3 separate regions of the Homo sapiens genome follow, and all the other regions are reported to be linked to region 1. Evidence: microRNA targets listed by miRTarBase, many of them from high-throughput screens and not tested one by one. Region 1 holds a microRNA gene; each other region holds the end of a gene's coding sequence.

Region 1 (3,246 bases):
GAAGCACTTGCTGGGCCTCTCCCCCAGATCCCCAATCTGGGGGAGATGCTACATAAACCCCAGGGCCTGTTCTGAATGCTGCAGCTTCTGAGGGACATGGAGAGACAAGCACACCCATTGGTCTGGACTGGATGGATACAAGCTGCCTAAAGACCAGAGAGAGGTGCAACTATTCTGAGATTCAGATGTGAGGTGTCATCTCCTCATGATTAGAACCTGCTCACCAAATGCCTATCCCTCCTGCAGCAATTAGAGCTGCAGAGCCATCAGCTATGATTGGCTCGGTCACTGCTTCTCTGACATGAGTTCCCATCTCTCTCGTTAGTCTGAGGACTCTCCCAGGGTGTCTGTCCAACAAACCTTTTTCACTTCGAGATGACTGATGAAGGTCTCCAGGCTGGTTCCAACTGGGTCCCAGGAGAACAAGGCTCCATGCAGCTCCAATACTGTAGATGGCTCTGCAGGGGGATCTGAACAGAGAAGCCACTTGATTTGGGCTCCTAATCTACCACAATCTGTTTGGGGAGGGTAAATCATGTAATTCACTTGCCAGCCCCATATCTACCTGCCCAAAGCTAAATGAGTCTGTTTTGGATTCCGCTCTCTCTAAGCCCTCTTGGTGACATCTATGCGCAGCACCCAAGTGGCTCCACTTCCCTCCTCACCCTGTGCCAGGTTCTGCCCACTAGCTTCCCATTACCTGGGCTGTAGTAGGCCTGGGGGTTGTGGTTTGGAAGGTCGAGGAAAAGCTGGATCCGGTCCAAGGACACTTTGGCCTCCAGGAGACCATTGATCACCCAAGGGAAGTTGTTGAGAGGAAGAATGAGCATTCGCACCAGTGCCAGGGCCGTGAACACCTGAGTGAGGTGGGTGCAGGGTGAAGCCCCAGGAGTTATCTAAGGGCCTGTTTCTATGGGAAGCCCTGTGGACAGGTCTACGGAGGGAAGAACTGGGCAATGACAGAACTGAAGGGCTGGCTGGCCAATCCTGGGATCAGATGTGGCAGAGATGGTCACTTAAAGAATCCTAGAAATTCCAATGTTCCTCAAGGGATTCAGGTTGCATTTTTTTTTTTCTTGACGAGTCTTGCTCTGTCACCTAAGCTGGAGTGCAGTGGCATAATCTCGGCTCACTGCAACTTCCACCTCCAGGGTTCAAGTGATTCTCCTACCCTAGCCTCCTGAGTAGCTGGGATCACAGGCATGCATCACCACACCTGGTTAATTTTTATATTTTTAGTAGAGACAAGGTTTCACCATGTTGGTCAGGCTGGTCTCGAACTCCTGACATCAGGTGATCCGCCTGCCTTGGCCTCCCAAAGTGCTGGAATTACAGGTGTGAGCCACCACGCCTGGCCAAGGTTGCATCTTTTTAACTAGGCAGGCCTAGCTCATTTTGAGTCTTTTTTTTAGAATTTCCAAGTAGCAACATCACCTGGCCTTGGCTAGACCCAGGATTGCATCATACATTTTTTTCCTAAGGCCATTAGAACGAGGATGAAGAGACCTAACCCCAAGCCTGGAACTGAATAGAAGCTGGAGTGAAAGGTAGAGGAGAGGAAAGAAAGGAACTCCTTCACAGAGGGGAGGGTTATATATCCAAGGCCCCCACAAAAAGGTTTCTTCAGTTTTCCCTTGGTTGAGAGATGAGGCAGTCAGGGATCCCTCCCTCCTTCTCAGCCAGCACTGAGGGCCCAAGCCTCTGTCTTCACTTCGCTGAAGTCTCCTTGATGCTGGTCCCCTTCCTTCCTGGTCCTCACCTTGGTGGCAGTGAGCTGGTGCCCCATGAGGACATAGGTGATGAAGATAACGATGGAGATGACAACCGGTAGGGCAGCCCACAGGTATACACAGGCCGCATCCAGGTATTTGATGACCCGGAGTCGCCCCAGCTCTCGAGCCCGGCAGGCCTCTACTCGGGCTCCCAGTGCCTGCTCCCACCCGCAGAACTTGATGACCCGAATGCCACTCAGCAGCTCTGTCACAAGCTAGGGAAAGGAGACAAGGGAGAGGCGTGAAGTGGAGGCACTGCTCATGTGTCTTCCCTGCCAAGCCTTCCCCAGGCTGCTGGCAGAATGTTCAGTACTCTAAGCTCCCAGATACTCTGCACTGCCCTAGTCTTGGTTTTCTTCCTCACCTCAGTACTTTCTGGAAATCCTGCCCTTCAAATCCTTTTCAGCCCTGGGTTGCTTCCCCTCCCAGTCTCTTACTTCTCCATTTGCTCCAGCTGGGGACAGCTTGGAGTGGGAATTCCCCACCTTCCTAGGAGGAGTGGTGGAAGGTGGAGCCAGGTCACCACAGTGGAGTAAAAGCTCTCCTCCCATTAGATGAGGGACAAAGGGCTATCTCCCAAAACCAAAAGATGTGGGCTTCGGGGGCTGGCCCCCCAGTTCCGGCCCCCGGCTTGAGTGGCACAGAAACTATTCCTGTAGAAGTACACAGGCATAAGAGGCCACACTACAGCCCAGGGTCAAACAGGCTAATGGGCCCAGGGAAGATGGGCAAGGGCCAAAACTCCTCGTCTGTAGCTGTCACAGGTAGGGGAAAATGCCTCATGCCATAACCATCTATCAACCTCCCTTCCCTCCAGGAGCACTCTGAGCTGTTCCACTAAGGGTCGACAACTATGCTGTATGAACCCCCAGGACTGCCATCCCCTTTGTGAAGGTACCCACAATCACTGCAGAACCCAGAGCTCTGCAGATTCAGCCAAACCCTAAACACCTGGAGTTGACCCAGGCAGGAAAGTGACCTATTCCCTTCCCCTCAGCCTACCCAAAGAGGCAGCTGAGGTTCTCCTAGGTCTCTACATGCAGCCATGGGGTGGTCTGTGCCCTAGATAAGGAGGTTGGAGACTTGGGTCCCAGCTCTGGCCCTAAAGACCTGTTTGGAGCCAGACAGATGACTTCCTACCTCCCAGGGTGGCCACATGTATTCAGAGCTTACTTTGTGACTGGCACTACACTAAGCATTATCTCATGAGATCCTTACAACTCTACAAGGTAAGCTACTACTATTCTCACTTTACAGATGAGGAAGGGGAAGCCCAAATAGGTTAAGTGACTTGTCTGAAGTGATTGAACCAGTAAGTGTAGAGCCAGGATTTGAACCCAGGTCTACCTTTCTCCAGTCTCAGCTCTTAACTTTGAGGTCACTCTCACTCCCTCAGGTAGTGTGCATGGGAAGACCTGGGGACCTGGGCTGGGTGGGGTCTCCAGATAGCTGAGGGACCCCAAGTACCCGCTCA
Region 2 (3,246 bases), not on the chromosome of region 1:
AATCTTAACATTAAAATAAATATGCAGTGGCCATGAGAATGGTCAAAATGCTTCAAAAAACACTAGGGCTGGGGAGCCCAGGGTGGGGCGTGGGGTTTCCTTTGGCATAAGGAGAGGAGGCTGCTTGTCCCCCAGGCTTCCTCACAGCCACATATGGAGGGACAGAGGACTCCCCACCACCTCCCAGCACTGCTGACAGTGCGCTGAGGGCAGCAGGGCGCAGACAGCCCCCAGAAATCTCATCTAGCAAGACAACGGGGCTCTGACACTCAGACGCTTCCCGCCATCACCAAACATCACGAAAGGAGAACACGACTCACACCCGGCAAGTTCTCTCTGGAGGACCCATCTTCTCACTCCCCTTGCCCCCCACCACCTAATTCCCAGCACCAAGATGAGAGGGAGGGGGTGGAATGGGAAGATTTCAGGAGAGAGAATTGAAGGGAAGGCAAGCTTTGCAGAGCCAGCAGGGTTGGGGATGGGGGCTGCAGCCCTTAAGAGAGGTCACATTGATTGTCATATAGGGGAGGACACGGTGTGGAGGGAGGTGGGCAAGAGGGGCGTCACAAGGCCCTTTGGCTTTGAAAATAAAAATAAAAACTAAAAGCTGCACAATCCTTCTCATCAATAATGGTCATTTGGAAGCCTTGAAATGATTTAGGAACTGAGGGTTGGGAGAAGCAAAACACAGAGAGACAGGGGATCAAAAGGGACCATGAAAAGATAAGGACTTGGACAACACCCCAGGCTTCTGGAAACCAGCATGAGGTATGGTTAAAGGTATCCGTTGGGGAGGGAGGGGGTCCCTGGGACGCCCCCCTCCCCTCAGCCCACCCTTGACAAGGGTGGCAAGACATTCAGGGTATACAACTAAAAGATGGGTAAGACTGTGAATAAAGCAAACTTGAGTAGGGGAGGGAGGCTGAAGGATCCCCCCTCAGGGGAGACCCTGTACTGTGTAAACGAAGCCTGTCCAGTTCTCAGGGGACAATACTGATGGCAGCCAAACTGGGCAAGGATGCAGTGTGGGGGCGGAGGGGGCATGACCTCTATTCAAGTTCTGTGTCTTGGCCCCTGGCTGAGGTATTGAGTGTGAGGAAGGGAACACTGGGCTGCAGGAGTGGGTCCAACTGTCCAGGAGGCTGCACTAGGAGATGGGTGGACAGAGCACTTAAAGGGACCAGGGCCAAATTCAATGCTACATTTAGAGAGAAAACTGCCCCCTCTTCACTCCAGCCCAGTTTGGCTTTTGGGGTGCGACTTTAGAAATCTTATCAGTGCAGCCCCCAGCTCAATCCCATCTTTCCTCCCTGCTGGGAAGGCAGGGACCAAGCCCCAGTACCTATTCATCTCTCTCTAGGTCAGAGCTTCTTCCTCACACTGGAGGGGAAGCCTGGGTCCCGAGTAGCCACGGTCCCTTGTCGGCCCTGCCCCTCCTACCATCTTTGGCTTCAGATCAGGAGTGACTGGGGCAGTGGGTACTCTTGGACATAACGGAAGGTGGAGGCAGATAGGGAGCACAGATAAACTATGGGCTTGGCGGCACAGGAGGAAGAACATGGTCCCTCCCTCCATATACATGCAAACACATGCCTGAAACACAGTGGACATACTAGGGCTGTGGTTTTGAAATGGGCAGGAAATTAATTTGTTTCTTCCCCTAAAGGATAAAACGCTTACTTAAAAATTCATGACAAGCCTCAAAGTTCAAGGGAAGGAGAGCCAGGGCAGGAATGACCACAGGCTCTGCCCTCCCAAAAGAAGATAAAAGAAAGAAGCAAGGTTAAAGTGCGTGGTTAGGGGCCAGGCTAGGAGTGGGAGGGAATGGGGAGGGGGCAGGCTGTGGGGGCAGAACCAGCCCTTGATTTGCATATGAGGAGCCAGGGGAGAGTGCAGGATTGGGGCCCAGGTACAGTAGTTGCTGCTTCAAGTGTTTTGCATTTGAACTTTAGGGGTGATAGGGTACAGAAGTGGGGAAAAAGCTCCAGGCCCCAGTGCTAAATATCCTCCCCCCTCATCCTCTAGCTGCCCCTGAAGGGGGGAGGGGGACACCCCCAGAGTGCTCACACAGTACCAGAAATTAAGGCTTCTCACTGCTGCGGGGATGGAGGGACCGGCCGAGCAGGGAGGCAGTGATGGGTATGGAAGAAGAGGGGATCTGCCTGGCAGTAGGGGCAGGGGAGAAGGGGGACACAGAGAGGAGTCCCCAGGGAAGAGTCGGGGGAGCTGGCAGCAGAAAGAGGGAACCAAGAGATGGAGTCAAAGAGTGGGGGAGCCAGGCATTTAGCAATCATTTTGGGACACTTGGCAGAAGGGGTCGCCCTGGGGGTACCAAGGGCCTGGGGTGCTCCCTGTCAGTCCCAGACCCCTGCCAGGCCAAGATGGTGTGGCAAAGGGGTGAGCAGCTGCTCCCCAGGGCTTCCTTCCCCTCCGCCCCCTCCACCCAGTCGTGTTCTCCTTTAAAGTGCCCTAAATGTTTAGACTTTTTCTAAATAAATAGAATTAGATATCAAGCCACCGGCGGGGGAGGGACACTGGAGGGGGCTACTCAGAGTAGCAGCCATCTAACCCAATGGCGCCGGGCCGCTCCTGGCTGTAGGGGCAGGAGGCCCCATGGGGCAGGGCGCCGCAGCCACCCACCGTCTTGGCGGCTGCAATGCTGCAGTTCTTGAGCAGGCTGAAGCTGAAAGGACTGACGGCGTCCTTGGGTGGGAAAGGCTTCATGGTGGAAAGGATCAAGGCCAGGCAGTCTGCCACATCTTTGTTGGGGGCACAGGCCAGTGCTGGGGTGTGACCTGCAGGGCCAAGGGGGAGAACTGAGGCATAGAGTCCTGTATCCTAGCCAGCCTCCCCCAAGCCCTGAAGTCTCTTCTCTGTGGAGGGAGCCAAGGCAGGCAGGTACCCAGCAGCGGCAGAATCCAAGGGTGACGAGGGCCCAGGAAGGCTGACAGGCAGATTCTCTAAGTACGGGTTAAAGGGCGGGCATGGGAGTCAAAGCCTAGGGTGTGGAGTCCTCCTGACCCTGCAGGCTCCCCTCTGAGACTCCAGAGTACTGGTGTGGGCTCCCTGCTCTGAAGAGTTCCCTTGGGAAGAAAATCCCATGTATAGCAAGATTAAGAAGTCACCTCCTGAAGAATGTCCCTGACCCCAAACCCAAGAGAGGCATGGGGCCCCAGACCCCACCCACCTTCTTCATCCACAGCCAGCACTGTGGCCCCATGACTCAGCAGGGCCTGTACCACAGAA
Region 3 (3,246 bases), not on the chromosome of region 1:
GGGCAGGACAGCCTGGCCGACTGTCCCTCCGAGACCAGACACGGGGTGTGTGTGTGTGTGTGTGTGTGTGTGTGTGTGTGTTGGAGGGGTCCCCAAAGGGGCACAGAAGTCCCGGGAGGCTTTTCAGAAGAGAAGAGATGGAGCCTGAATGGGCAAAAGCAGCAGCTGTGCTGTTAGGAGCTGGAGTGAATACTGTGAGCCCAGACACCTGGGATGAGATCCACAGATGTGGCCCGGTCCCTTACTCTTTTGGTGCCTCAGTTTCCCCATCTGTACCATGGGGATAACAACAGTGCATGCCTCATCGGTTGGTTATGATGATAAACAAACTGGATTTTAAAAAGGTCTGGCCCAGCAGACTCACTCTGTGTTTGCTGTTATCAGAACCCTGTCCTCAGACCCTGGCCTGACACCACCTCATACTCCCTCTCATGCCTCTTAGTCACTTCCTGAAAGTCTGCAGCAGACGACACGGCTTCTCCCAGCCCGTCTTCTTCCCCACACGGTGGGCATGGTAACGTCCTTAACATGCACCTGTCAGTGTGAAAGCAGCAGGCTGAGATCACACACCAAGTTCCCGTAAGTATTCTGCATTCATTACCTTATTTTTCTTTTGAGACGAAGTCTCGCTCTGTTGCCCAGGCTGGAGTAGGGCAGTGGTGCGATCTCAGCTCACTGCAACCTCTGCCTCCTGGGTTCAAGTGATCCTCCCACCTCAGCCTCCGGAGTAGCTGGGATTACAGGTGTCCACCATCATGCCTGGCTAATTTTTGTGTTTTCAGTAGAGTCGGGGTTTCAGCATGTTAGCCGAGCTGGTCTTGAACTCCTGAGCTCAAGTGATCCACCCACCCGAGCCTCCTAAAGTGTTGCGATTACAGGTATGAGCCACTGCACCCAGCCTTATTTAATTTTCAAAAACAGTCCCTTTTCAGGAGGGGCATTACTACCAGTCCTGTCTTAGGAGGTGGGTGCTGAGGCCTGTGGTCACTTGCCCTTCCTGGATAGCCTGGCACCTAAACCCTTCCCTGCACTGTTGAGTCTTGAAGGCAGACCTAGACTCCAGTGATGTGCACTGGACCGTCCAGGTGGCTGTTTCCAGATGCCCTCGCAGCCCGGCACAGGCTGTACCTGCCCCAGCCCTTGACACTGAGCCAGAAGCTGAAGCAGAGAGCAAGGCAGTGACCGTGGGGGGGCTTGGACGCAAGGTGGTACCGTGGCGGGCTCAGCCACAAGGCGGCAACCATGGAGGGTTTGACATAGAACCCCTCCCAGGCTCAGGCGCTGGGCACACAGGAACCAAAAGGACCAGGGTGAAGCCAGCCCCAAGACTGGGCGGCAGGGGAGTGGTCAGACCAGCGCTCTCATCCTACGCTTTCCAAAGCCCGGCAACTGCCCTTCATCCACCCGGCAGAGGCTACAGATTTCCTCTCTGGAGAGAAGGAACCGGGGTTGCTCGCTGAGCTGACAAGAGGTGGCATCCTGGAAAGATGCAGCTGGCCAAAGCCTGCCCTCCATACGGAGTCCCCCCCTCGGCCAATGGCTCCAGCTAAAGGTGAGAGAATTCCTTGCGTGGCAGAATGGGCCACCCAAGACCTACCAACACTGACACTCAGGACCCCAGTCAAACAGAGTGGCCTTAGCAAGGGAGGTGGGTGCCATTATCATCACTTGCGGATGTGGAACTCATGCCCAGAGGGTATGACCAACCTGTAGGTTCCCAGCCAGGAAGCTGAAGGGCTCAGATGCGAACCTGACTCAGTGTGGCACTCGGCAGGTCCCTTCCAGGAGCCTCATCCCTGCCTCCGTAGGATGGAGGTGGGGACAGCCCTCCTGAGGACACATTTCCTGCACTGCCTCCCACAGCTGTGCCCAGACTCCCAGAGCCTCTCTCATGCCAAGAGAGTCTGTGGTGGGAGCCAAGACAGCTGACCCCAGAAGCCCCGGGCACCCCAGACGCTCGGCCCTGGGAGGGTGGCTGTGCCGGACAGACTCCAGACAGAGCTCAGACTCCGGGTCTACACACAGTGACTTTATTACTCTATGGATGCTGGTGAACTGCCCTCCCCAACCAGCTTCACGGGGGCAGGCATCTCTGTCCATCCCATGCCTTTGGGTCACAGGGGGCAGCAAGACCAAGAAGACCACAGCCAGGCCCTGGGTTCAGCTTCAGAGCCATCACCCGCTGCCTCCCCCAACCCCCAATCTCCTGAGGGAGGAGAATTCCTAGGGACAAGACCCAGACCCCTTTCCTTCAGCCTCTGCTTCACCAAGGGGGCCTGGCCTGCGCCCGAGCTCCTCCTGGCCTGCCCCTCAGGGGTCCCAGGTCCTCACCTCTGCTCTTCAGGCAGGAAAAGGGCAGGGAGAGAGGAATGGAGGAGGGAGAGGGAGGCTGGGCCGCAGGAGAGAGAAGAGGGGGGAAGGAGGAGACATTAGGGAGAGGCCCCTTCACACAGAGAGAGAGGCCGAGAAATCAGGGAGAAGGGGGGGGCTGAGGTGAGACCTGAGAAGGAAAGTGAAATTTGGGGGAAAAGGAGTTGGAAAGGAATAGGAAGGCGTTGGGAAGTTCAGACAAGGGAGGCGCAGGTGGAGGAGGACGATGGGAGGGAAGGAGGAGAGGAAGAGGCCAAGTGGCGCTGGGAGAGAGCAGGTACCGCCCGGGGGCAGCACCAAGGGCGGGAGATGGCGCTGGCCGGGAGGCGGCTAACCCAAGGGCCAGGGCGGGAAGGGGCCTCCACCATCCGGGCCCGGAGCTACCGCCCCCTGCGCGCTGGCCGCTGCCCGGCCGTGGATGCGCTGGTGGCGCAGCACGTGCTCGCGGCGCCCGAAGCCCTTGCCACACTCCCAGCAGGCAAAGGGCCGCGCTCCCGAGTGCGTCTTGCGGTGGCGCACCAGGTGCTCGCGCCAGTAGAAGGTCTTGCCACACTCGCAGCACGCGTGGGGCTTCTCACGGGCGGGCAGAGGGCGCAGCGCGGGCCCGGGGCTGCCGGGGCTGCCGGGGTGCGTGTCGCGGTGGCGCCGCAGGTGCTCCTTGCGCCGAAAGGCCTTCCCGCACTCAGGGCAGGCGTGCGGCTTCTCGCCCGAGTGGCTCTGCCGGTGGCGCAGCAGGTGAGCTGGTTTCAGGGACGTTTTGCCGCACTCGGGGCAGGACGTGGTGCCCGGGGCCGCTAGGAAGGCGGGCAGGCCAGGCGCCAGCGGGGGGCTGCTGGGCTCCTGCTTGTAGGGGCGCACAGCCTGGGAGTCCCCAGG

The links. Region 1 holds the annotated microRNA hsa-miR-6780b-5p (UGGGGAAGGCUUGGCAGGGAAGA, at 2,039-2,061, opposite strand). A microRNA usually pairs through its seed, bases 2 to 8, with sites in the 3' UTR of a target mRNA and lowers its output. Matches are read on the target gene's strand: a 7mer-m8 pairs with bases 2 to 8, a 7mer-A1 pairs with bases 2 to 7 and ends in A, and an 8mer does both.
Region 2: miRTarBase lists ANKRD52 as a target of hsa-miR-6780b-5p. Seed matches in the 3' UTR shown: 7mer-A1 at 1,972-1,978 and 7mer-m8 at 1,386-1,392.
Region 3: miRTarBase lists ZNF444 as a target of hsa-miR-6780b-5p. Seed matches in the 3' UTR shown: 7mer-m8 at 2,414-2,420.

Annotation. Positions count from the first base shown.
Region 1 is chr6:43,433,362-43,436,607 of GRCh38, reverse strand. It overlaps MIR6780B (microRNA 6780b), which reads right to left and starts at 2,066; the gene lies at 1,988-2,066. ABCC10 (ATP binding cassette subfamily C member 10) reads right to left here. Exons shown (of 22, transcript NM_001198934.2): 4 at 1,760-1,987; 5 at 701-857; 6 at 361-470.
Region 2 is chr12:56,240,598-56,243,843 of GRCh38, forward strand. ANKRD52 (ankyrin repeat domain 52) reads right to left here. Exons shown (of 28, transcript NM_173595.4): 27 at 3,188-3,246; 28 at 1-2,795. The coding sequence ends at 2,545. Among named protein-coding and RNA genes, the nearest start is that of SLC39A5, 12 kb to the left of the region's middle. RefSeq lists an enhancer at 2,509-2,678.
Region 3 is chr19:56,159,656-56,162,901 of GRCh38, reverse strand. It overlaps ZNF444 (zinc finger protein 444), which reads right to left. Exons shown (of 5, transcript NM_018337.4): 5 at 2,009-3,246. The coding sequence ends at 2,701. Among named protein-coding and RNA genes, the nearest start is that of GALP, 15 kb to the left of the region's middle. RefSeq lists an enhancer at 358-457.